2 separate regions of the Homo sapiens genome follow, and region 1 is linked to region 2. A link means that fine-mapping ties the variant in region 2 to the expression of a gene that starts in the linked region. Tissue or cell type: whole blood. Region 2 holds a variant in brackets; the other region holds the start of a gene. All regions are shown on one strand. Distances are between the middles of the regions.

Evidence for each region. PIP is the estimated chance that this variant, and not a neighbour inherited with it, causes the effect.
Region 1: it holds the start of GNPDA1, and the variant in region 2 is fine-mapped to the expression of GNPDA1 in whole blood (INTERVAL, PIP above 0.99).

What each region holds. Positions count from the first base shown.
Region 1 is chr5:142,011,746-142,014,427 of GRCh38, forward strand. GNPDA1 (glucosamine-6-phosphate deaminase 1) reads right to left here and starts at 1,282. Exons shown (of 7, transcript NM_005471.5): 1 at 1,250-1,282; 2 at 167-296. The coding sequence starts at 290. RefSeq lists silencers at 407-466, 1,138-1,407 and a cis regulatory region at 2,549-2,682.
Region 2 is chr5:142,160,112-142,162,793 of GRCh38, forward strand. All of the region lies in intron 2 of LOC107986455 (a long non-coding RNA gene), which reads right to left. Among named protein-coding and RNA genes, the nearest start is that of NDFIP1, 53 kb to the left of the region's middle. The variant C/T (reference allele first, on the strand shown) is at 1,235.

The sequences.
Region 1 (2,682 bases), 150 kb before region 2:
GGGAAGCTGGGTCCTTTGTATGTGGAAGGGGCAGGAAGGTGCTCTCTCAGCACCAGTACCCCAGAGCCCCCGTGAAGTCCCTTGGCTGAGTGAGCCGGTGTACCTGGCCCCTGTTGCCTACTCTCTCCACCCTTATCCACGGCACCCTCTCCATCCAAGAACGCACCAGTGGGGAGCCCCAGGGTGAAGTACTTCTCTGGCCCTGGGTTAAACTGGATGATGCGGTTCCTGATGTATTTAGCCGCCCACTCGCTCGCCTGAGAATAGTGCTCCAGGATGATGAGCTTCATCTTGTCCTGCAGTGGGGGAGAGGGGATGACAGAAAGGAATCAATGGTAAGGGGCAGAGAAAGAGATGGAGGTGGTGGGAGAAGCTTCTCTTACCCAGCAACAATCCCCTTCCCAAGCTGTCTGAGCCAGGAAAAAGGCCTTTCTATTCACAGAGGAGCTAAGAGGCTAGGCCAGTCGTCTCCACCACCCACAGACCACGAGGAGGCGCCACTGGGGGCAGATCTGGGTTCTAATCTCAGCTCCTTCACTTACCACCTGCAGGACCTCGGTCAAAGGACCTAAGTTCTCTCTGAGCCGTTTCCTCCTATGTAAAAATTGGGACAATAGTACCTACTTCACAGACTTCACGACGGGTAATATGAAATGAGAGAATGCATGTAAACAACTTAGTATTTTCTACGTTGGCTGTTACCATCCAGATAGATGCTCGGCTCAGCCCCGCCTCCCTCATCCCTGCCCCTACCGGAACGGGATACCCTACCCCCTCCCCGCCGTCTACCCCAAGACTCTTCCTCCAGAAGTAGAGAGGTCATGGGATCATGCTGGGCCACTAGAGCAGGTGGGGCAATGAGCTCTGCCTGGGGAGCTGTGTGCTCTCTCTGGACTAGCGGAGGGGTCTTCCTACTGGCCCACCTTGCTTTGCGAACCCCTCTGGGTCTTCAGTTTCCCCCAAAGCACAAAAGGGAAAAGGTAATCGCTCCAGAAGGAGGACATTTTGTTCCCCCAGCACTGCGGTTAGTGGGAGTGTGAAGGAAAGAGGCGAAGGTGGCCCGCGCGGTCGTCGGTGGGGTACAGCGTGTCCCCCACCCCCATTACCACCCCATCGCCCCTCCGATCCCTCCTGGAAAATGTGTGAGGGCGGCTCCCCGGGGTCCCGACCCCGAGTGCCGTAGGGCTGGGGCAGCGCTCCGCGCTCCGGCCCGCGAGGAAGGTCCCCGCCAGCCCTGCTACCCACTTACACGGACGCCTCCCGCGGCGGCTGCAGCGACTGCGCCGGCGGCCCGGCCCCGCGCGGGTCACGTGGCTGCGGGTCACGCGGCGCCGCGTGCGCCGCCCGCCGGGCTGACTCAGCTTGGCCGCAGCTACCCGGACCGACTCTCCCAGGTGGAGGAGTTCCGGCCACTCAGTCCCACCTCGGTCCCTGGCCCCGGCAGGCCCTGGAACAGACCTTAAAAAACACTTTCCCTTGGGAGGCGGGGATTCGAGTCTGGTTTGTGTGTGTGTGTGTGCAAGAGGAGGGAGACTTGAGGGGCGCCGGGTCGCCCCCAGGAATACAACCCCCTGGACCTTGGGGCTGGGGCCGGGGGGTTTTAGTGCAGGGGTTGAGCTGGGGGCAGGCAAAGCAGAATCGCTTCCTCAGTCTCCTAGGGTTGGGCCTGGCTCTGCCTTCAGTTTCTTTCTTTGTTTAGATGCCATTTATTTACCCAAGTATTAAAACTTGTGTTGTTTAAAGTACAATTGGGCTTTTTAATGTCCTTTTTTAAAGATCAAACTTTGCAGCATTATATAATAGAGAAAAAGGCAGGCCCCTGGTTTCCCCAACTCCCCACACCAAGATAACCATTGCTTAGTTTAAGAGTACATTCTGAATTGCTTTCTTTGAATATGCTTACACTGTTATTTTACATAAATGGGAACACATACACATGAGGCTTATATATATCAAGGCTCGGATATTTGACCTGCATTATTTCACTTAATCCTTATTAAGCTCCAGTGAGGTAGGTTTGCCGTTACTTTTTAACAGGTGGAGAAACTGACGCTTGGAGAGAAAAATTAACTTGGCCAGAGGCACAAGTGGTTTCCCTTGTGCCTTCAATTCAGGGGGATCTGTCCAAATCCAAAATCCATGCTTTTTACCGCTAGCGGGCACTGCCTCCCAGCTGGTATGACTGGATTTGGGACGCTTCCATATCAGAAAAAGAGATCCATCTTATTCTTTCCAGTCAACATTAGAGTGTTCCAGACTTCTAGGGACACTTGGGAACTTTCCATGCGGAGGCTGGAGGAAGGACTTGAGTGCTGGTCATCAGTAACATCTTCCATTACATAGGGTTTTGCCAGAGCTTTGTGCGCATTATTTCATAGAATCCCGCCCAATCGTCAGATATGATTACCGCCATTTTATTGATGTGGAAACTGGGGATCAAAGGCGTACAGAGACTTGTGATATATGACCTCATAGTCTGACATCCCGGACTTTAGTCAGTGCTAGGGAGCAGTGGTGAGACCTTCTGAATCAGCCTAGTTTTCCTCCAGCAGCAAAAGGCCAAAGGAATCCTGGCTTTATGCCCACGGGACAGGGCCTTCCTCAGTCAGCCGGGTGGCCACGTTCTGCAATTCTGCTGAATCTGCTCACTGTGGACAGCCCCAGGCGCTCACCCAGCCCTTG
Region 2 (2,682 bases):
CTCCATCCATAGTGGTTTATTCCCCTCAGAAAGAATTGCAGATGGAATTTGTATAATCACCTGTGTTAGAAGTGATGATCTACTTTGAAAAATACAGTTTTTATGTATTATAAATAATTGTGCTCTGCCTTCTTGCATATAGTTGCTTTGGGCCTTTATTTGATAAAAACTATCTTATTAGCCAGTTATGACATACATGACTTTATGCTGGATGTAGTATATACAAAGATTTGTACAAGACAGCCCCTGAACACAAGGAGGTTTTAGTCTGGGAGGAGATTGGTAGGAGACAAAGTGCTTTCCTGTCCAAGAAATCTTAATATGTAATGTTTTTCTGCTTCGTTTGCATAGTGATGGAAGAAGCTTTTTACACTTTTCAAGCTTGCTGCTAACTTAATTTTCACCAGAAGGGCACTTTTAAAGATGTTCGTAAAACCAAATGCCCTCAAAGGAGAGATTACTGCCACTTGAAGAGGCCACCCCCAAAAGGGCCAAAAGGATGGGGGAACATCTCAGGGTGCTATGTGGCCAGGACCTAGAAAACCAGCTGCCAAGGGGACTTGTGACTGTTAGCCTAGGGCTTGAGCCCTCGCTCCCCATTTACTGGCTGTGTAATCTTGGGTCATTTGCATGTCCTATCCAAGCTTTGGTTTTCTAATCTGTGTGCTGGAATATTTTCTCACAGGGCCATTTTTAGGGAGGTAAAGTGCCCAGCATCTAGCAAACAGCTCTTCACAGCTGATCAGCTATAGTATTGGGTCTAAGGGCAGGACATGAAAAGCCCAAACCTATAATTCAAACCGAGGGAATTCATTTCCTTTTCAGGACCGTATAGCTCTCATAAACCCTGCCTTTCCTCATTCCTTCTTTCCTAAATGTCATTAGGCCATCCCTGATAAATCAGATCATTCTTATCCTCCTAAATTCCTGCAGCCCAGATGAGAATATGATTTACTATTGCTTTTCTGGTAATATTATCATATGTTTATGTGGGAACTTATATACATGTTCATTTGATCTTCACAGATTACTATAAAAGGGATTATTTTGCGTTCTTTACCACCAAGCAACCAAAGCCTCCCTCCCCCGGCAAATAATTTTCCAACACTCACTAACATCAAAACACTCTACAGATTCAATAAACTTTGATTCTCATTTCCTTTCCTGAGTTCTATAGGCTGAAACTCTGGCCTCTTTTTTGCTTAGTCCATTTGTATTACATTACAAGACTTGC[C/T]GTATACTATCTTTGTATGGATTTAGGTATTCGAAGCAGCCTTTGAACTTCTTATCCTTTGCTTTGTTTCTTTCTGCACTGGCCTTACATTCTCTGCTCTTTTCCCTGCCCTTTCCATGTCTTCTTTGCCGCCCTCTCGACACCTCCCCCTTCCCCTACGTTTCCAGTGCTGCTTAGATCACTCTTGTTACTTCTCTGTCCTAAATTCCTACACAACTGTAGATAGGGCCATTTTCTCAGTGGCCGCTCTCCCTTTCCTTTCTCCAAATCTTAACCCTGGGCCATTTGAACCCTAGTTACTTCTTTTTTTTGTTTTGTTTTGGTTTTTTGGTTTGTTTGTTTTGAGACGAAGTCTCACTCTTGTCCCCAGGCTGGAGTGCAATGGCGTGATCTTGACTCACTGCAACCTCCGACTCCTGGGTTCACGTGGTTCTCCTGCCTCAGCCTCCCGAGTAGCTGGGATTACAGGCGCCTGCCACCGTGCCCGGCTAACTTTTGTATTTTTAGTAGAGATGGGGGTTTCACCATGTTGGTGAGGCTGGTCTCGAACTCCTGACCTCAGGTGATCTGCCCGCCTTGGCCTCCCAAAGTGCTAGGATTACAGGCGTGAGCTACCGCGCCCGGCCTAACCCTAGTTGCTTTCTATCTTCCCATTCCATCTAGCCGCATCCAACAAGAAAACCACATGCCTGCTTTCTCTTCCTGAAGCTCTCCAAGGAACGTTCCTGTATGCCCCTGGATAGATGGTTCCAGCCTGTGTCTGTGCCCCCCAACCCAGTCCTGCCAATCCAAGCCTGCCCAGATAGGGCCTGCCTGTTTTCCCCTTTATTGGGGGATCTGGGGAGCTTTTCACAGTGGTGGCATTTGTCACAGTGTTCACAGGCTCACCTCTTCATGCCCCTTCAGTACTAGTTTGGCTTGGCCATTAAACAGAAAGCATTGGGGTGTCCTCTGCTCTTTGTTCTCTCTCACTATATAGATCACCTCCAATGGCATCTGCATGAATCTATGACAACTCTCGGGCCTCCATGGAGAAGCACCTGGCTAGTCCCAAATTTCATAATCCTTCTGATGCTTCTGAATTACCTTCCACAAAACACTAGGATTCTATAAACTTTTAATTGGAATTTTATCTTTTAAAAACAGCCTTAATCATGTAATAAGATGTATTTTCAAATATGTGTTCAATTGTGTGGTTATTTGTGATCTCATTTACAGACATGAACAAATACTAAAACAATATATAAATAAATTTACTCAGAGTATTTGGGATCTCAGATTTTGTTTTACAAAAAGGGTTCTGCAGCTGAAAAAAAAATGGCTTGAAAACCACTGCCCTAAGTAAACACTCATCTCTTACTTTGCCTAAAACTGTTAGACCGTTATACATTTTTTTTCCTCCGTCAATCTTACAGGGGTTTCAAAATGCCCTGATTTTGCAAAACTTA